3 linked regions of the Homo sapiens genome follow. The protein of the gene in region 1 purifies or fractionates together with the protein of each later gene. This does not show direct contact. Each region holds a gene or a part of one and is shown in the gene's direction. Other genes may lie near its edges.

Region 1 (7,134 bases):
GCCAGCCAGGGATGCCTCACAGCAGAACCAAAGCAGGCCCTCAGTGGCCCTGCAGTCAGGGTGGCCTCTTGGAGCCCTTGGGGACCTCCCCTCTCCGGGCTCCCTGACCCACACCTGGGCTGCCAGCACTCCAGACAAGCCACTGCCCTGGGCGTCTTCAGAGCTGAGCACCCTGCTGACTCACCTTCTTACCCGCCCTGTGAGGCCCAGCCCACTGCAATGGGGGGGTCCCCATCCAGTGCTGACACAGCTCCCGTGGTCTCAGGCCCACTATATTCTACCATCTCCCTACTAGGATAAGCAGGGCCTTCCACGCACCCAGCGCTGTTCCTGGCCCCGGCCCCGGCCCCGGCCCCCACTGAACCTCAAGGATCACTTATACATGCTCACCTCAGGGTTTGTTTGCTGCTTCCTTGGTCACATGGTTCATGCCATGACCTTCAAATTTCACTCCAGTGTCACCTCAATGAGGCCTTCCCTGCCACCACTTTTTTTTTTTTTTGAGACGGAGTTTCACTCGTTGCCCAGGCTGGAGTGCAGTGGTGTGATCTCGGCTCACCGCAACCTCCGCCTCCTGGGTTCAGGCGATTCTCCTGCCTCAGCCTCCTGAGTAGCTGGGATCACAGGCATGCACCACCACGCCCGGCTAATTTTGTATTTTTAGTAGAGACGGGATTTCTCCATGTTGGTCAGACTGGTCTTGAACTCCCGACCTCAGGTGATCTGCCCACCTCGGCCTCCCAAAGTGCTGGGATGATAGGCGTGAGCCACCGCGCCCGGCCCCTGCCACCGTTTTAAACAGCAATCCTCCCAGCTCCACCATTCTCATTCCCACACCATCTAACAGACTTTCTTTTTTAAAAAACTCTACAGTAATTTTATTATTTTTGTTTTTTTTTTTGGAGACAGGATCTCGCTCTGTCACCCAGGCTGGAGTGCAGTGGCACGATCACAGCTCACTGCAGCCTAGAACCCCTGGGCTCAAGTGATCCTCCCATCTCAACCTCCCGAATAGCTGGGATTACAGGCAGACACGACTACACTCAGCTAATTTTTTTTTTTTTTTTTTTTTGTGAGATGGAGTCTCGCTCTGTTGCCCAGGCTGGAGTGCAGTGGTGCAATCTCGGCTCACTGCAAGCTCCACCTCCTGGGTTCACGCCCTTCTCCTGCCTCAGCCTCCCGAGTAGCTGGGACTATAGGTCCCCACCACCACACCCAGCTAATTTTTTTTTTTTTTTTTTTTTTTTAGTAGTCAGGGTTTCACCGTGTTAGCCAGGATGGTCTCGATCTCTTAACCTCATGATCTGCCCACATCGGCCTCCCAAAGTGCTGTGATTACAGGTGTGAGCCACCGTGCCCGGCCCACTCAGCTAATTTTTAAATTTTTTGTATGTTGCCCAGCCCTGTACTTATTTTATATGTCTGCCTCCTCCCCTCTAAAAATGCAAGCTCCAATAGGATGGGGATGGGAGGTTTTGTTCATGCCAAAGGAGTACCTGGGACAGGGCAGCTGCTGAATACATATGCTTGGTGAATGACTAAAGAGAGCTTAGCTCCTTTTATAAACCCTGAGTTGCTTGAGTCTCTCTTACATCACTGTCTGGCTGTCTTCCTACCCCTCTGGCAGCTCTGCTTATCTCGTTTGTGGGCTGCCCTCTATCTGGGAGCCCCATACTACCTAGTCCTTCATGTTTCTCAGTCTCAACTGCTAACTCTTCCATTTAAGCAGCCATGTGAGCCAGGGGCAGTGGCTCATGCCAATAACAGCTACTTAGGCTGAAGCAGGAGGATCACCGTAGACCAGGAGTTCAAGGCTCCAGTGAGTTAGGGTCACGCTACTGCACTCCAGTCTGGGTGAGAGAGGGAGTCTTTGTCTGCAAAAAACCTCCCAAGCAGCCATGAAACTCAGCTAATTCCATCTTCTTTTTTTTTTTTTTTTGAGATGGAGTCTTGCTCTGTCACCCAGGCTGGAGTGCAGTGGCAAGATCTCAGCTCACTGCAACCTCTGCCTCCGGGTTCAAGTGATTCTCCTGCCTCAGCCTCCCCAAGTAGCTGGGACTACAGGCACACGCCACCACGCCTGGCTAATTTTTGTATTTTTAGTAGAGACAGGGTTTCACCTTGCTGACCAGGCTGGTCTCAAACTCCTGACATCAGGTGATCACCCACCTCGGCCTCCCAAAGTGCTGGAATTACAGGCGTGAGCCACCCCACCCGGCCACTAATTCCATCTTCTAAGCATCTCTAGAAACATCCTTCTCCCCAACCCTATCTGCACCAACCCTTGCCACTGCAGAACTCTGTCTTAAGCAGGAGGTATCTGAGTCTGTCACTCTCCCACTCCTGTCACTCTCCTGCTGCTCTTGGGATGATGTCTTCTCACACAGGTCCTGACCCTGCCTGCTCTGCCTCTTCATGCTTGCCTCTCATCCTTCCTGAGGGTTAAGGAAGTGCAGGCTGAGGTTCCAGGGCTTCCTGGTGGAGGCTGCAACTTGTGCTGGCTGGGGCCTCAGATGGTGTAGGAGACTGACTCCAGCAGCCACTCCAAGTACTCCAAGCTACTCCAGGCTCCACCTACTCCCTCCTGGAAGCCTTCCCAGACATCCAGCAGTGGGGAAGGTGGATCCAACTTCCCCAACCAGGACTGGGGGGCCAAGGCTATTCCAAATTGTAATTGTATCCATTACAGGGCACTGACCATTCTGTCCTTCCACGGTGGCACCTCGGACTAGGACTGCCCACCGCTGAGCTTCCTGAGGGTTGAGGAAGTGCAGGCTGAGGGTTCCAGGCCCTCCTGGTGGAGGCTGTAGCTCGTGCTGGGTGGGGCCTCGGATGGTGTAGGAAACTGACTCCAGGGGCCACTCCAAATTAACCTGAGAAGAGGGAGAGTCCAGGCTCAGGGCGTCCCCCCGCCCTACATCGCACGAGGAGCAAAGAAATACAAGGTAACATTTATAGACCATTTACACGGTCCTAAGCCCTGTACGCCTATCATCAAATCCTCACAATAGCCCTGTAAAGTAGGTCCAGGTAGGTCCCAGTAGGTCCGAGCGTCACCCCCATTTCACGGACGAGAAAACAGAAGCAAAGAAACATAACTGCTTAAGGGCACCCAGGTGGCAAGCGGAGGGGCCTAACTTTGGGCTCCGTGCCCTGCCCGGGCCAAGAGGACTGACCGCGCGCCCTCCGCCCCCACTCACCGCCCCAGGTCCCGCGCCCAGCAGCTCCAGCCGGAAGCGCCCAGGCCGCTCAGGGTCCGCGCTCAGCTGCAGCCTCCGCAGCTGTGCCTCGGCGTCTGGCCCGGCGCCCAGCGGCCTCACCGCGGCGTGCACAGCCAAGAGCACTGCGGCGGAGCCCAAGTCCGAGGCCGCCGCCGCCGCCCCGCCCGCTGGCGGCGCCATCTCCGGTCCGGCCGGGTCCCACCCCTCCGAGCGCGCTTCCGTGGGATCGGGCCGCTGAGCCCCCTCCGCCGGTCGGAAACACGGGCCGCGAACCTGGGGTTCCGGGCGCGCCCAGAGCGTCGGGCCTGGGACGGCGCCGAGTGGTGCACTCTGGCCAAGCCTGCCCCGCTGGCTTTGCCCACAAATGGACACGGCCCGAGGGTCTCCGGACACCGGCTGGGCGAGGCTGGCGGCGTGTACGAGGCTGGGGCAGGGCGGCCGAGGCGCTCACGTTAGAGCTGGTCTTTGGGGGCGAAGGGTCAGGGGGCGAAGCACCGGCCACAACTGAAGGCGGACGCGGCCTCTTCGCCCCAGGGGCTCGGCGGACGTAGATGCATCCAGCGTGCGACTATCCCAGCGCCTAACGGCAGCTGGACTTCGCTCCCGGGACCTCCAATGGGCTGCCACCTTCGCCCGCAGACCCCAGCCCCCGCCACGCCCACACGTCGCACTAGGTTGGCCCGCGCCTCACTGGTTACGGGGTCGACCCCCCTAGGGGGCGGAGCTAGAGAGGCCACGGCCAATGAACGCCGGGGGTAAGCGGGTTAGTACGACGAGAAGAGTGACAGACAGGCTCCATAACCAGTAGACGTAGAAGGCAGAACTGAGTGGCGGGTACGGCACCCGATGGCTATTCGAGCTCTCGATCTCGGAGACTGGAGCGGGCCATTCAGAGGCGCGGGGCCGGGCCCGGCGGACGCTTGTTGTTGTCCGGCCGGGGGAGGCGGAGGTCGCTCGCTCGCTCGCTCGGCTCGCTGACTCGCCGGAGCGCTCTGTGGCGGTCGGCGGCAGGTCGGTCGCGAGAGCGGGCTCTGTGGAAGGGGGCGAGGCTATGTCGCGGTGGCAGCCCGGATGGGCCGGCAGGGCCGGGAGTAACGGGACGTCGCCGCGGAGCTTCTTCCCCCGGATACAGTGCGGCCCGAGCGGAGGCCGCGGCGCCGCCCTCCGATCTTGAAGAGCCCGCGCTGCGCGGAGCCCGCCCCCGCCTGCGCACCGGCACCGACGCGGAGCGACCCAGCCCAGCCAGACCCGGCCCGGCGCGGCCTGATCTAACCCAGCCAGGCAGGTGGGTGTCCGCCCTGCGTCCCGCGCCGTCTGCGTACCCGGAACCACAGCCCCCAGCAGGCCTCGCGCGGCGCGCTGCCTCCTGGGATTTGTAGTTCCACCGCGGCTTGGCTGGTGCCCGACGTGGCCCAGGCGGGCGCTGCCTGGTGACTGCAGCGCCCCAGCGGGGCCGAGGGACCGCCCTCCTAGGCGTCTGGAGAAACTAGGCAATTTTTCCGGGTAGAGTGGAGGAACCTGTAGTTTTCCTCTCCCCGGGCCAGAAAGTAGCCAAAACGAAAGAGCGCCCGCCCAGGTGACCGCAGGGCCCGGAGTCCCAGGTGTCCTGGTTCCTAACCGGGATGCAGCCTCTTACCTTGGCTGAGGAGCCCAGCCAGCCTGAGGGAGACTGCAGGAGTCACGTCCCGTTGCGGACTCAAGAGTTACCCCCATGGTGGCTGGAGCTCTTTTGGAGTGGGCGTGGAGATGGGGAATGGGAATGTTGAGCAACAATCTCAGCCAGCAGCCCCAGGGTGAGCAGGGTCCCCGGTGGTCTAGTCTAGTCCCAGAACTCGCGTGTTCTGCAGGGGGTATGGCTGACCTGGAGCCTGGACTTACCACCCTCAGGTAAAACAGGATCTCTGTCACCTCTCCTGGCCGGGCAGAGAGGGGAGCTCCTGATGTGCAGCCTGGACAGAGGCCAGACTCAGCTTGTTCCTAGCGGCTCCACTTAGTGGGTAGGAGGGCTGAAGGCAGGGCCCCAAGGGGCCAGATAGATACCCATGGTCTGGTCTCTCACTCCCCAGGCAATACTAGCCCCTCTGGAGCACGGAGCTCCTTCCCCAAAGACATGAAGCTATTGGAGAACTCGAGCTTTGAAGCCATCAACTCACAGCTGACTGTGGAGACTGGAGATGCCCACATCATTGGCAGGTGAGGCAGGCTGGGGGGGCTGGCATCTCGGAGGTCACACTGCCGCGCCCTTCAGTGGAACCTGGGGGAAGCATGCTTCATGGTTCTCTCTGCATCCTATAGGATTGAGAGCTACTCATGTAAGATGGCAGGAGACGACAAACACATGTTCAAGCAGTTCTGCCAGGAGGGCCAGCCCCACGTGCTGGAGGCACTTTCTCCACCCCAGACTTCAGGACTGAGCCCCAGCAGGTGAGCCATGGTGGGGCCTACCTGGGGCTGGGGGTTGAGGGGAGGTGATGGGCCCAGCTGATGGTTCTGTCTGTGCAGACTCAGCAAAAGCCAAGGCGGTGAGGAGGAGGGCCCCCTCAGTGACAAGTGCAGCCGCAAGACCCTCTTCTACCTGATTGCCACGCTCAATGAGTCCTTCAGGCCTGACTATGACTTCAGCACAGCCCGCAGCCATGAGTTCAGCCGGGAGCCCAGCCTTAGCTGGGTGAGGGTCAGGTGGAGGGAAGGGACCCACAGCCACCCCACTGTCCTTCCCCACTTTGGGTAGCCCTGGGCTCCTGTCACCCTGACTGTGACCTGCCCTAGGTGGTGAATGCAGTCAACTGCAGTCTGTTCTCAGCTGTGCGGGAGGACTTCAAGGATCTGAAACCACAGCTGTGGAACGCGGTGGACGAGGAGATCTGCCTGGCTGAATGTGACATCTACAGGTGGGCCGGCATCCCTGCAGATGGCCTCCAGGCCTCCAGGTTTGTGGGGCACTTGGCGCCTCACACCACCTGTCACCCTATACTCCCCAGCTATAACCCAGACTTGGACTCAGATCCCTTCGGGGAGGATGGTAGCCTCTGGTCCTTCAACTACTTCTTCTACAACAAGCGGCTCAAGCGAATCGTCTTCTTTAGCTGCCGTTCCATCAGGTGGGCACCCCCCGCCTCCTCCCCCACCTCCCTGTTGGGCCGATACAACTTCCCCAGCTGTGCCATCTCCACCCAGCTTTGCCCTCCCTGAACATCCTCCCTGGGGCCAGCAGCAGGCCTGGGTAGGGGTCCTGAAACTGGTTTCCCTGCCTCCCCTCAGTGGCTCCACCTACACACCCTCAGAGGCAGGCAACGAGCTGGACATGGAGCTGGGGGAGGAGGAGGTGGAGGAAGAAAGCAGAAGCGGGGGCAGTGGGGCCGAGGAGACCAGCACCATGGAGGAGGACAGGTGTGTGATGGGGGCCATGACCCGGGTCCTTGAAGCCTGGAGTGGGTACAACAGGGTGGGGGCCTCCTCTACTTGGTCTAAGTGGTGGCTCCTGAAGGCCCACTGTGTGCCAACCTCCGCCCAGGGTCCCAGTGATCTGTATTTGATGAGGAGGAGCCGAGGCCCCAGCTTCATCCAGCTTCAACCAATGCCTGGACCTGTCCACCTGAGAGGCCCCTGGGGCCTCCCCAGCTGCTGGCCAGACCCTGGCGCTGCCACAGTCCTGGCACTGCCCAAGGCCATACCTGCCTAGCCCTTTGGCTCCATCCTGTGGATGCCCACTCACCCCTCAGACTCCTGCTGCCCATGCTGTGGCCGGACTTGTCAGCAGGGGGCCTGGTGGGAGGAGCGACTGCCCTGCCCAAATGAACTGCCACAGCAGGGACAGCTGGACCGCAGAGTTTATTTTTGTATTTCTACTGGGCCTGCACACTCCAGCCCAAAGGGTCTGTGGCCGGAGGCCCCACGAGCAGGCCCCAGCAGT
Region 2 (7,026 bases), on another chromosome or scaffold:
TTTTTTCAGCATACATTTTCTAAGCTGTTTACATCCTTCCTTACCAAGCTTTTTCATGCTGCCTTATAAAAGAGCACTTTTTCAATATTTTAACTTACATTTGTTTACCTTGTAGTGCCAGCTTGTGACTTAAGAAAGTTGTTATCAAGAAAATAGGGCTTTTTAGAAAGATTATGCCTTAGTAAGTAAAGGGAATCATTGGAGACCATAGTACAGCAAAATGGGATAATAGAAGTAGAATGCAACTTATAGATATTCTCCTTGTGTTATTTTATATGTGTGTATATATATGTAACGCCCTTTTTAAGGAAGCTGAAAATACTAATAGGGGAATCAAAGTTTGAGCGTGTGCTGCACACAGGCAAGCCCTATCATTTGCTTGCCTGTTGCTTATTGGCAAAATGGTTAGTCAGCCATTCATTATTTTTATAAACATTTGGGAATCTGATAGCATTTTGAAGTTTTATGATATAGAATAGTTTATAAATTCTATTTTAACATTTTAACTTACACACCCATAGTCAGTGCTGCTAAAAATGCACGTACATGTATACTCTCACAAGTTCTTTAAAAGGCCTTTAGAGAAAACTTTTTGATGTCATAAGCACTAAACATTTGCTAAACTATTTTGCTGTTCATCCATTCAGTGGTCAGTTGTAATGCCTGAGAATTATGTTCTGGGCCTGGTAGCACAATTTATAGCAGGATCCAGTCTCTTTCACCATTGTTTAGAGGTGCAGCCATTTATGCTTCCCTGCTGCATAATAATGCGTGTCTCAGGTTTCAGAAGACATGTTTGGCAGCCTGGTGGGACATTGCCTGAACCCTTGTCTCCAGCTGAGTAAGGTATACAATTGGAACTGAAATCTCAACATAAATTTTAAGTGATTTCATAAAAAAGGACAAACTTATTGTCAGTGAACTTTACCATAATCCCAGCAGTAGTAATCTTATTTCTAAAACAGTAAGTGATCTATTGCCAGGTATCCTGCCCAGTTTATTAGTTGGCACTAAAATAACATAAATCAATTGGCAATTTATAGTGCAACCTTGATAAAGTTCATGAGTTTCAGTTTGACTTGTTTTTCAGCTGAATCTTTTTAAGTTTTTAGAGATTTAAGCACATACTGTCATAAAAAGTATAATAGAATTCTTCAATTTAATTTGCTTGACATTTATTGAGCATCTATAATAAGCATGGCACTGCACTAGGTATTCCCTACATATGTACTATTTCTTTCAGTAGTAATTGTCAAGTAATTTTTGCTGCTTGAATGGTTTATTTTCTTTTTCTTTTCTTCTTTTTTTTTTTTTTTTGAGACAGGGTCTTGCTCTATTGCCCAGGCTGGAGTGTAGTGGTATGATCTTAGCTCACTGCAACCTCTACTTCCTGGGCTCAAGCGATTCTCATGCCTCAGCCACCCAAGTAGCTGGGACTACCATGCCCCGTTAATTTTTGCATTTTTAGTAGAGACATGGTTTTGTCATGTTGCCCAGTCTGGTCTTGAACTCCTAAGCTCAAGCAGTCCACCCACATCGACCTCGCAAAGTGCTGGGATTACAGGCATGAGCTACCACGCCCAGCCTGAATAGCTTATTTTCATCCCCAAAATGAAATCATCATTGATTTAATGACATGAGTATGGAGAAAAAGTTAAAGGAAATAAATACTGAGTTTTGGTGTCTGCATACCCTAGGGTGTAACTCTGTGAAATGGCACTTAGGTACTTCGGAGTGTGTGTGTGTGGTGTGTATGTGTCACTATGGAAGCGTGTGCAAGAGAGAGAGACTTAAAGCTGCCTTAGCTATTCACAGGGGGAGAAAAGAGATACCTAGGAGAAGTTAAAGAGGCTCAGTAGCCCACACTCAAGCTCAGCAGTAGAGCAAGCCTGAGTTTTCCAACTTTAACATCTCTTTGTAGCATCAGTTCTGTGTCCACAAGCCGAGGAGACTGAAAGACTCATCTTCAGGCAGGTGCATGAACCCCAGTGTGTTTATAAGGGGAAATGAGAGAAAGGGTTAACATTCTGATTTCATGTTCAGTTGACAGTGACCCAATAACACCCATCCGAGGAACAATCAGGTGGAAAGACTGATTGCTAAGGAGGGAAGAGCCCACCCCTGATTGGGCTGTACCCTAGATTTCTTAAGGAAGGGGCCAAGCCTTTTCTCATTTTATCTCCAGTTTTTGGCACAGAGTAGATGTTTATTAACTGCTTAATACATGAATCATCAAATAAATGCATAATCCACTCTTCCTTGCTCTCACTTGAATTCCTCTTTGTTCATTCTTTTTCTTCCCTTCTCTCCTGTATTCTTTTTCATTTAGAACTTTTGCAATTATTTCTTTTTATGGAATATACCTGTTTATCCATTTTATAAGCTCCTCGGATGTGAACACTGGGCGTTGTTCTTACATTACCTCTCCCCAGCAGGCCTGGAACACGGTAGAACCAAATAAAGAATTGTTGATTGTGAAATTAACCAGTGGAAACTAAATCCCTCAAATGGGATAATGTAAATCCAAAAAGTCTAAATTATTTAGATTAAAATATACTTTATATTTTTCCTTCTTTGTAGAACTTTAAATATTAGTGAGAAAAGTTGCTTTTGCAAGTTGTTAAGCCACCATGAGAGTATTGCTTTTGAAATGTTGAACCTGAAGATTTTGTTCATTTTAATTAGTGATGTTAATGTATTTATCTCTATATTCATTACTACCTTATTATTTCACATAATAGAATGTTGTATTTTGTTTTCTCCCATATCAATGCAGGTACTATAGGATACAACCAGCGAAACAGAATTGATACTCTCATGTATCTACTAGCATATCCACAAAAACCCATGGTTAAGACAAAAACCATTGAATTGATAGAATTTGAGAAACTGCCAGCTGGACAGAATGCAACAGTTGCTGTGATGAGCTATAGTGGCTATGATATTGAAGATGCTCTTGTTTTAAACAAGGCCTCTTTAGACAGAGGTAAGTGAATTTTCAAAACTAACACCAAAGTTGCTTTTTGCAGAATTAGATATAGGGATGATTAATGTAAAAATCACTTGGTTAATGTCAGTTTTAAGTTATTTGAATTTTATGATATAGAAACAGGAGGTGGTTGGGTTTTGATGTTGGCTTTCTTGTCATTTTTAATGACTAGTATATTGAAATAATTTGTTAAACATACTACTACAGAATATTTTTCTCCTTTATTATTTTATTGGTTACGTGAGACAATCCTTCAAAAAGAAAAAAAATGTAAGAATGTGTTTGTTTTCCAGCAGGAATTACAGTATATGAAATATGTGTTTTCACTGTGTCTAGTGATACATATTATTAACAACAAACCTGTTTGAGAGGGCAGTAGCAATATTTGGATGTAAAAGGCTGTTTCTTATTTGTGTAACCTCATAATTTGGTAACTTCTTTGGCCAAGTGACGAAAGTTAAAAATACACGGCCACAAACTCTGGCGTGGAGTTTTTCTGCTTTTCTTTCTGTTTTTGACAATACTTTCACAAGTCACCACCTCGTGGTTTGTTAGACATCACCTGATCTGAAGTCTGACTTCTCTATTCATAATCTCGATTTCTCTTTTTCCTTCCTGGCGTACCCACTATGCCTTCCCCTTCCCTCTTTGTAGTTGCTAGGCAGCCATAATAGTACTCCTAGACATGTGTCTTTGGCATTAATGTTGGCCACACTTAATTTATGCCTCTTTTTTTCCTCCAAATGACAACAGCCATGCTTTAAAACTAGATGTTTTCCTTTCTGATTAACTGGTAACGTTTATGTGGAAATCTGAAGACTTTGTGATGTCTGTCAGAAACTCTGCAACCCAATTCAGTGATCTGAGTTTACTATCCCCTAGCTTTTAAGCTATCACCTGTAAATAAAATGTCTGTTTACACTTTGAAGAAAACACTTCTTGATTTCATGCAGTTAAGATTCACATTGCACTCCAGCATGTTGCAGTTAATGGCTACTGTATGAAATTTCAAGATCATGTAATGTTTCCAAACCAGCTGGCATTCTGAGCCGAGTTTATTATGGCCATACACAATTTCCTAGGAGCCATGATGACTACGGCCTTGCTTAAAGACACAAATGTCTTCATCTGACGTCCAATTTTAGAAATTCGTTACTTCATCTCACAGTCACCTTCATATTTAAAAAATTACATTACAGCCCTGAGATTTTATTTATAAATCCACTTTTACCTGATTGATTTCTAAAGTCACATTCTTAGATTTCTGTTTTTGGTGGAAAATTGTTAAGTGAAGGATTTTACTGCCATGCATTTATTTCATCAGTAATAAGCGGCATTTAATCCTGAGACATTTCTTATTTAAGTGAACTCTGGCATGGCTCAGTATATCCTGAGGAGATTAGTAAGAGAATCCAGTTTAAAATAACTGCTTGGCCAAAGGGAAAAAAGAAAGAAATGCAGCCACAGAATCAGGAAATTATAGTGTTGAAGGAATGACAGCTGTTTTGGGTAACTCTACAACTCATGGATTTTTTCTTTTAGGGATTCAGTGGTTGAGTTTTTTTGCCCCACCCAAAGGTTTTTCTTCTGTCCTTTTTGCTTATTTTTCTTCCTTTTCTTTTCTGATCCATTGCTAGACAGCTTATTTTTCTTGATGTTTAGATTGTTAGTTGATTTCACAGCCTTTCCCTCATCCACTAGATAAATGCAATCTAAAAATGTAATTAAACTCCAATCTTTAGGGCAGAGGAGAACTATTTTTCCCATTGAAATAATTTGATTATTTCTTTTTTCATTCTGTCTCTTCTCTGGAGAAAAATTATTGTTTTTACTTGTTGGCTTAGAACTTGCTCTAAATGCCAAATTTTAAAAAGGAAAACTTTCCAGGGAAGTTTAGCAGAAGTTATGCACCAAAAGGATGTGTATCCTGGCTCAGGAGTCAGTGGACTTGTGCTGTTCAACACAATTCTCAACTCTGCTGCCAACTTTTTGGATGACCTTGGCCACTTAATTTCTCTAGACCTCACTCCTAGTGCCTGTAAAACAGATAGGTTAAGCAGGTGATTTCTAAGGGCCTTTCCAATTCTAATATTCTATGGCTCTGTCCTCTGAAAGAATCACAGCGCCAGTCTTAGATTTCTCTCACCGTTCTCCAGTATGACAAGGTGTATTCCATGCAGAAAATGGTTGTAGAGATTCCAGTGTTTACACAGACAGTAGGTAGGGGACAAGTCCTGTGCTGCTTCTTCAGATTATCAGATTTTTATTTGGTTTGTACTGGTCCCAGATTATTATCAAATACAGAGAAGTTTTGGGATTTGGGGGAGGGTGAGGTGGAGTGGATTGTTGAGTAGCACAAATCCATATTTCCTTATAGCTTTGGGTTACTGGTGGTTCTAATGCCCATCTTGGTTTCATTTTAGGCTTTGGGCGTTGCCTTGTATATAAAAATGCTAAATGTACGTTGAAACGATACACCAATCAGACTTTTGATAAAGTGATGGGGCCCATGTTGGATGCTGCTACAAGGAAACCTATCTGGCGACATGAAATCTTAGATGCAGATGGTATTTGTTCTCCAGGTAAAAGCCTTTTAAAAGAAAAAATTTTAATACTTTTTGACATCATATGTTATTCAATAATATTTCTGAATATTTGGCAAAAAGGGCAGAAAAAAGTAACAACCTATAAAACCACCATCCAAACTCAACCAATGAGGTCATTTTTGATGAATTTCCTTCCAGTCTGTTTTTCTATACACTATGTTTTTACCTATCAGTAATCTATGCTAACTATAATTTTCTAGTTATAATTTTGAATAATAGAAAAGCCACTTTAAGGAAATATTTAGAGTAGTTTATGTCCCTGCATCTGCACTGGTATTTCTTCATTTACACATTTAGCTTACAGACTACTTTAGAATTTTATCCCCCTGCAAAGGTATGACTCCATTATAATTACAAACTTGTAATGCATTTTGTTGATGAAACAAATAGCCCTTGCCCTTATGGGTCTCACAGGCTAGTGCAGGAGACTGACATTGATCAGAGGATCATGCATAAATCCAGGTTAAGGAATCATATAGGTAACTATGAGGCCATTTTATAGCAAGAGAATTTGACCTTGTTGGGAAGATCAGCATGGCTTTCCCGAGGAAGTGAGCTGGAATCTGAAGGATAGGGAAGAGTTAACTAAAGAAGAGGATCAGGGAGCATGTTCTAAGTAATGAGAAAAGCTTGTGCAAGGGTCCCAGAGCTTGGTAGTTGAAAGGTCTGAAAGAAGACCAGCGTGGCTAACAAGAAGAGAGTGCAGGGAAGCATGGTGCACATGAGTTGGTGGGTGACGCAAGGGGTAGGGGCCAGAGTAAGCAAGTCCTTGCAACCATGTTAGTATTGTCTTTATTTTATTTTATTAATTTTATTTTTGAGACAGGGTCTCAGTCTGTCACTGAGGCTGGAGTGCAGTGGCACAATCTCAGCTCACTGCAACCTCTGCCTCCCAGACTCAAGTGATTCTCCCACTTCAACCTCCTGTATAGCTGGGACCCATAGGCACGTGCCACCATGCCTGGATAGTTTTTTGTATTTTTTGTAGAGATGAGGTCTTACCATCTTGTCCAGGCTTGTCTTGAACTCCTGGGCTCAAGTTCTCCACCCACCTCGGCTTCCCAAAGTGCTTGAGCCACCATGCCGAGCCCATGATACTATTTTCATTATGATCCTAAAAGCAATGATATATTCAGATATGTGTTTTGAATGATCATTCTGACTACAGTGTAGAAAAAGGATTAGAAGGGCACTAAAATAGAAGGTAGACCTGGTACCAGGAGCTGTGGTGAAGGTGGAGAGAACCCAGTTTGTGAGGAGGGAAATCCACATGACTTTGTCATGGTTGGCCTGTGGGCGGTGAATGCTTTATCAAGCTGTGGTTCCAAAGAGACACAGAGTACGCGACTTCTCCTCCCTCCCTCTGCCTTTGTTTCTTGGAGAATTTTTCTCACCCTAACACTGGTCAGTATGGCTTGGAAAATACGCGCT
Region 3 (7,026 bases), on another chromosome or scaffold:
CAACCCAGATGTACTATCCAGAGGAAGGAGCTCCAGCTCTCTAGCTGACAGGGCACCTCAGCCTCCCTGATCCCTGGCAGGGCAGAGGCCAACAGGGCATAGCAATAGCCAAGAAAGAACAATTGCGTCTTGGGAACCTCCCAGGCCCCAGCCTCTCAGTTGTCCACTGCCCAGCTGCAGAGAAGGCAGGAGCTTGACATATCTGTGGCACTTGGCAGCCGGTGCAGATGGGGTGAGGCCTTGGGCTCTCCGCTCTACACTGCCCTCTGTCTGCACAGCAGACAGTCGAGATGCACTGAAACTGTCCAGATGCGACTCCTGATTTTCATTCCATCCTCCATCTCTGGGACTGTTACGATAGCTGTTTCCCTGAAGTTTCTCTTTCTACCCGCTCCATGTCTTCCTCTGCCCGAAATCCTTCTGTAGCTTCCTATTAAATAGCATTCCCATGGTTCATTTATTTAGACAACAAACATGTATTGAGTGCCTGCTGTGTACTAGGCACTTGGGGTACCACAAGGGACAAAATAGACCAAAATCTCTGCCTTCACATAGCTTACAGCTTAGTGGCAATAGAGATGGGCACAGATGCAGAGCTGTAAACTGTCACATGGTGATAGACACCTGCTATGGAGAAAACCAGAGCAGAGAAGGGAATTGAGGGGTGGGGGAGGCAGTTTGCAATGTGATTTGGAGAGGGAAGGTCTTAGCCACAAGGTGACATTTGAGCAAAAACCGGAAAGAGGTGAAGGGGGGACCATGAGGTTATCGGGGGGGTAGAGCAGCTACAAAGCCCCAGAAGTGGGTTTGGAGCAGAGAGGAGGGTAGGAGGCTTGTGGGAGATGAGGTCTGGCAGGTCAAGGGGCAGGAGATTGTTTAGGGTTTACATGGGATGATAAAGACTTTGGCTTTTGTCTAGGTGTGGTGGCTCATGCCTGTAATCCCAGCACTTTGGGAGGCCAACACAGGTGAATCACTTGAGGCCAGGAGTTCGAGACCAGCCTGGCCAATATGGCAAAGCCCCGTCTCTACTGAAAATACAAAAATTAGCTGAGCGGATGGTGCATGCCAATTATTGCAGCTACTTGGGAGGCTGAGGCAGGAGAATCACTTGAACCTAAGAAGCAGAGGTTGCAGTGAGTCAAAATCACGGCAGAGCACTTCAACCTGGGTGACAGAGCAAGACATGTCTTAAAAATAAATAAATATTAGATAGTTCAAATGTTAAGTAGATCAGACAAAAATCATGCTGGTCTCAGCCGGGCGCAGTGGCTCACGCCTGTAATCCCAGCACTTTGGGAAACCAAGGCGGGCAGATCACCTGAGGTCAGGAATTCAAGACTAACCTGGCCAACATGGCAAGTCCCTGTCTCTACTAAAAATAGAAAAATTAGCCGGGCCTGGTGGTGCATGCCTGTAATCCCAGCTACTTGGGAGGCTAAGGCAAGAATCGCTTGAACCCGGGAGGCAGAGGTTGCAGTGAGCCGATCGTACCACCGCACTCCAGCCTGGGTGACAGAGCAAGACTCCGTCTCAAGAAAAAAAAAAAAAAAAATTCATGCTAGTCTCACCCAAGAGCAGAGGTTTGGGAACTGCTGAGGCCTGGGGGTGCCTGAGTACCATCCTACCTATGACCACCCCTCTTCTCTTTGGGTATGTGAAGGGGCAGACCAGCTGAAATACTCAACCTGCCCCGTGGAGACCTACAGCCTTCCCTCTTCCTGGAATTTCTCCTCCCCTCTGTTGTCATGACTTGCCCAAAGCTCTCTCTTCTTCCAGGCGCACCTAACGTGCCTCCTCCCCAGCAGAAAGGCCTTTCCCGCCTCTCAACTCCCCTACCTGTACCTGTCACCTGAGGTCAGACAGCCTGGATTTGAAGTCCAGTTCATCATCCTGCTTGCTATGTGACTTTGGGTCAAAATGCACACAGTATCTCTGAGTTCCAGTCTGTTCATTATAAAACAGTGACAATCACCACACCTCATAGGGTCATTGTGTTGAATACAGGACAGAAGAGTGTGTGAAGAGGTCATTTTTAGACCAAAAACACAGAAGAGTCATCTCACTCAGGATTCGAGTTAAAGTCAGCTTGAAAATCAAATATCAGAGAGCTTTGGACTGTCTGTCTTCCTGTTCAACTTCTGGCTCCTCTTTAAAGCGTCCCCAGGGCCCTCAGTTCTCCAGTGTTTTAATCATGGCTGGGACCAGCCAACCTCTATCCTTCTGTCTGGCAGTGAATTCTCTGTGAGCAGAGAAGAAACCATTAAAGCCAGTCATTTGCCTTTCCCCGCAGGTGCAGCCCACACTTGTTGGCTTGGTCTACCCGCTTGCACCCGCTGCTTGAGTGTTTCTTTTTTTCTTTATTTCTTCTGGCTGATGGGGTATAGGGTTGGTCATCCATTGTTGACTTCAATGTAGATGTAGAAAGAAGGTCAGTTGGTTGGTTGTGGGCTCCCCCTCCCAGTGCAGGGCCTGTTGCAGAATAGGCACAAGGAAATGTTGGTTGAACGACTGATGGTCCCAGTCTCTCGCCCTCCTTTGCAGATCGAGCTGAAGGACTGCGCGGCTGGCTCTCCTCTAGTATGGCCAATGAAGAGGATGACCCAGTTGTACAGGAGGTAACTGCTGCTCTCTGTCCCCTGCCGCCGGGGCTACAGGCAGTGGAATTGGGTCCTTTCCATGTGTCCTCAGGCCAGTCTGGGACCTGTTGATGTTCTGGGACCCCTAACCCTTGCTGTTCCCTCTGCCTGGTCCCCTCTGCTGTCCCCCAGACCCCTGCGTGGCTGACCTCTCCCTTCCTTCAGGTCTCTGATCTGGCATCACCTCATCAGGGAGGCCTTCCCTGACTGCCCTTCCACACCCAGCTCCCCTCCTGCACCCTCCCGTGCCTCTCTCTGCCCTTACCTTGGCGGTAACTCATACTTGGCCTAGCCCCCGTCATCCCCTAGATATCAGTTGATTGCTTTCTTTCCCGTCCACTGCTGTGCCGCAAAGCCGAGTATAGTGCCTGGCACCCAGGTACCCGGCGACTATTTGGTGAATGAATGAATGAATAAATGGGCTCAGCAGTCCCTCCTTCCCAGGCTTACGCAGATGTAGTCATTCAGCAGCTGTTCACTGGACCACTGTGTGCTGGGGGCTGTGACACATCAGTGAGCAGGGCAGGGTCCCCTTCCCTGGGAAGCTAATGGGCTGTGGGCAAGACTGATGAGGCAGGAGTCTCCGGGTACAGGCAGTGGGAGGCAGATTTCCCTTTTTTTTTTTTTTTTTTGGAGACAGAGTCTTGCTCTGTTGCCCAGGCTGGAGTTCAGTGGTGCCATCTCGGCTCACTGCAACCTTCACCTCCCAGGTTCAAGCGATTCTCCTGCCTCAGCCTCCTGAGTAGCTGGGATCACAGGTGCCCATCACCACGCCCGACTAATTTTTTTTTTTTTTTTTTTTTTGAGGCGGAGTCTCACTCTGTCTCCCAGGCTGGAGTGCAGTAGTGTTATCTTGGCTCACCGCAGTCTCTGCCTCTGGGTTCAAACGATTCTTGTGCCTCAGCCTCCTGAGTAGCTGGGATTACGGGCGCCCGCCACTACACCTGGCTAATTTTTGTATTTTTAGTAGAGATGGGATTTCACCATGATAGCCAGGCTGGTCTCGATCTCCTGACCTCAAGTGATCACCCACCTTGGGCCTCCCAAAGTGCAGAGATTACAGGCATGAGCCACCATGGCCGGCACAGGTTTCCCTTCTTAGAGAAAGCTGTTGATAGTCAAACTCACCTTTCAGAATCCTTTTAACCCAGGACTTAGACCTTTGGAAGGCAAAAGGCAAAAAGTAACTGCATCTGCCTTCAGCCTCCTTATATGCGGAGCCTGACCTCCAGTGGGAAGGGCAGGGGCAAGGAGAAGGTCCTCGGAGATGAATAGAGGTGGTTTTTCCTTGCTTGGGGGATGTTGCTAAGTTATTAGATGTGAGTTATTTAGATGCATTTAAGCTGCATCTACACTGCAGTAGCAGGAGTTACAACAGGGGGGTTGGTGATGGGATAGAAGAGTCCAAGGGACTCCGAGGACAGAGGCAGTGCCCTCTGCAGCCAGGGGGCCTGGAATGCTTCCTGCCCAAGTTGTGCCTCAGCCAAGTCCTTGGAGGAGCGAGCAGTCAAGGCTCAGGGGAGGCATGTGTGAAGGGCTCTGTAGGTATAGGGAAAAGCATGTGCAAAGGCCCAGGGGTAGGAGAGCATGTGGTTTATAGGAGGAGTTAGGAAGCAGGAAGGTAAACTGCTGCGTGGCGGGGTGGGGGTGGTTAGTGTTGGGAAGAAAGGAAGTGGAGCCATCAGTCACAAAGGGCCTTGCAGACCCCTTAAGAAGGGGTGACAGGCTGGTCCAGGAGGGGCAGGTGGAGGGCCCAGCCAGGAGGCACAGGCCTAGGTGAGCCCTCGCCTGCCTGCCTCTCAGAAGAGCATTTGCCCAGGCTGTAGGACGTTTCCCGATCAGTGCAGCCCCAGGGAAGATGTGTGCTTACTGGGGGATTGTGAACTTGGGTGGGGGTACCAGGTGAACTCTTGCCCTGGTTCCCCTGGGAGCTTTCAGGAGGGATTCCTGAATATACCCAGTGTGCAGCCTTGGATCCGCTTGCTTTTAGCATGAGCTGAGCTATTTCCTCCTTCCCCAAACTGCTTCCCTGAGCCACTGCCCTTAACTGAAGCTGGAAGCGCTGGCATAGCCCGGGGAGGTCAGCACTGTGTCCAGTCTCCCGGTTAAGTCGTCTTCCCTTCTTCCCAGATCGATGTGTACTTGGCCAAGAGTCTGGCGGAAAAGCTGTATCTATTTCAGGTAATTATGGGACTTGAAGGTAAAGAGGGGAGAAGCAGGTGTGGGTGGGTGGTGTGGACTCAGGAACACGGGCAGGAAACGATGGGAAACCTCAGCTAGGGTTCTCGGTGTGGAGAGTGTCATGGGGTCTCTTTGCTTTCGTGGGTGGGTTAATATTGGTCTCATTTCAAAGATGGGAAAACTGAAGGAACACAGGAGAGGCAGAAGTGTGCAGCAGTTAAAGCTGGGGCTCTGGGGTCAGACCGGATTGAGATCCAACTCCATCACACCATAGCTGCGAGACCGTGGGCAAGTTTCTTAATCCTTCTGTGCCTCACTTTCCTCACTTGCAAAGTGGTGATGGTGATAATGCCTGCCTCATAGGTCCCCAGGAGGACAGGCTGAGTCCACAGTGAAGTGTTTAGGATGCCGCCTGGCAGAGAGTTGGTGCCAGTGATGATGGCCGCTGTTGTCATGGAGGCTCCAAGGGGCAGCTCCATGGCAGCGTCTGTGAGCCCTCAGTCCTGCCAGCTGCGAGGGCCCCGGGTTGCTACCTCTGCCCCCTCCCCTTGCTGCTGGGCCAGCAGCTTGTCATTGTGGCCAACATGTATTGAGCATTGACCGTATGCAGACTGTTGAAAGCATTTACCTCAGTTACCTCTTTAACCCCACAATAACCCTATGGTGGTGATTATTACATTTTATAACCGATATATTGAGATAGAATTTACACACCACACAGTTTCCCCATTTCAGTGTGTAATGCAATGGATTTTAGTCTACTCATGGGGCTGTGCAACCAGCGCCACAGTCTGTTTTGGGACAGTTTTGTCCCCCTTTAAAGGAACCCCTTGCCTATTAGCGATCAGTCTGTGCCCCCCATTCCCACCTCCAACCCCAGGCAACCATTCCCCTTATTTTCTGTTTATGGTTTTGCCTATTCCGGACTTTTCACATAGCTGGAATCATGCAGTATGTGGCCTGCTGTGATTGGCTGCTCTCACTTTGCATGATGTTTTCAGGGCTCATCCACATGGTAGCTATAGCCTGCATCAATATTTGAGCTTTTCTTTTTTTTGTTTGTTTGTTTTGAGACACAGTCTTGCTCTGTTGCCCAGGCTGGAGTGCAGTGGCTTGATTGCGGCTCACCACAACCTCTGCCTCCCAGGCTCAAGTGATTCTGCCTCAGCATCCTGAGTAGTTGGGACTACAGGCACGCGCCACAAGCCCGGCTAATTTTTGTATTTTTAGTAGAGATGGGGTTTCACTATGTTGGCCAGCCTGGTCTCGAACTCCTGACCTTGTGATCTGCCTGCCTCGGCCTCCCATAGTGCTGGGATTACAGGTGTGAGCCACCGCTCCCAGCCAATATTTGATCTTTTACTGATGAATAATGTTCCATTGTATGGGAGACCACAGTTTGTTTATCCATTCATCAGCTGATGGGTATTTGGGTTATTTCTACTTTTTGGCTATTATAAATAATGCCACTGTGGACATTCACATAGAAGTTTTTATGATGAACGTGAATTCTCATTTCTTCTAGGTATATGCCTGGTAGCAGAATTGCTGGGTCTGCGTTTAGCTTTTTGAGGCACTGCTGGGCTGCTCTGCCCCATGTTGCCTTCCCACAGTTAGAGTCAGTGTTCATATCCCATGATGCACATGAGAACGTGAGGCACAGGGAGGCCTTCACGGGCACGGAGGCCTGGGGCATGCCACAGCAGCAATGTTGTAAGCCTGTGCTGGGAGGGCCTGGCCTCCACTCCCTGGGGTTCACCCTTATGGGCCGTGGGAATGGGGCCTGTCCTGTGTGCCTGCTCACCCTGTTTCCTTGACTGGCTGCAAAGTGATGGTGGAGGTGCCAGTGACCCCCGTGTGTCCAGAGTTCCAAACCCTGAGCCACCATCGGCTCTGTTTGCCTCCTCCGTGCTCACAGCGGCCTTGGGAGGTGAGGATGCTTAGCCTCAGGGAGGCGAGGTGCCTGCCTGAGTCCACAGTTAGCAAGGGGAAGGATGAGGACTGGAAGCCAGGCCTGTGATTTCAGAACCTGCGCCCTTCAGCCTTCCCACCCCCAGTCAGGTGATCTCAGAACTGCCCCCAGCCCCAGCCCAGGAAGCAGGGAGGAGTCACGGCTTTGCTGTGTGAGTGAGCTTTTAGGAAATGACCGTCTCCTTGCGCTAGAATGTAGCTGATCTGAAAGGGCCTATTTTCCGCACTGCCATAC

What was found. Proteins that work in one complex are often made in the same cells at the same time.
Region 2: the proteins of MAF1 (region 1) and POLR3B purify together in Homo sapiens (affinity purification with mass spectrometry; 2 studies listed by BioGRID and IntAct, with this or other methods). This does not show direct contact.
Region 3: the proteins of MAF1 (region 1) and POLR3E purify together in Homo sapiens (affinity purification with mass spectrometry; 2 studies listed by BioGRID and IntAct, with this or other methods). This does not show direct contact.

What each region holds. Positions count from the first base shown.
Region 1 is NC_000008.11:144,100,353-144,107,486, forward strand, and holds the start of MAF1 (repressor of RNA polymerase III transcription MAF1 homolog), read left to right. Parts: upstream 1-4,108; 5' UTR 4,109-4,506; intron 4,507-5,287; 5' UTR 5,288-5,331; coding exon 5,332-5,414; intron 5,415-5,516; coding exon 5,517-5,645; intron 5,646-5,723; coding exon 5,724-5,889; intron 5,890-5,990; coding exon 5,991-6,112; intron 6,113-6,202; coding exon 6,203-6,322; intron 6,323-6,482; coding exon 6,483-6,611; intron 6,612-6,735; coding exon 6,736-6,757; 3' UTR 6,758-7,134. Other genes in the region: sharpin, read right to left, coding at 2,699-2,873, 3,201-3,401. UniProt on the Homo sapiens protein: Plays a role in the repression of RNA polymerase III-mediated transcription in response to changing nutritional, environmental and cellular stress conditions to balance the production of highly abundant tRNAs, 5S rRNA, and other small non-coding RNAs with cell growth and maintenance.
Region 2 is NC_000012.12:106,451,726-106,458,751, forward strand, and holds part of POLR3B (DNA-directed RNA polymerase III subunit RPC2), read left to right. Parts: intron 1-2,776; coding exon 2,777-2,986; intron 2,987-5,412; coding exon 5,413-5,571; intron 5,572-7,026. UniProt on the Homo sapiens protein: Catalytic core component of RNA polymerase III (Pol III), a DNA-dependent RNA polymerase which synthesizes small non-coding RNAs using the four ribonucleoside triphosphates as substrates.
Region 3 is NC_000016.10:22,300,387-22,307,412, forward strand, and holds part of POLR3E (DNA-directed RNA polymerase III subunit RPC5), read left to right. Parts: intron 1-2,544; 5' UTR 2,545-2,582; coding exon 2,583-2,618; intron 2,619-4,769; coding exon 4,770-4,820; intron 4,821-7,026. UniProt on the Homo sapiens protein: DNA-dependent RNA polymerase catalyzes the transcription of DNA into RNA using the four ribonucleoside triphosphates as substrates.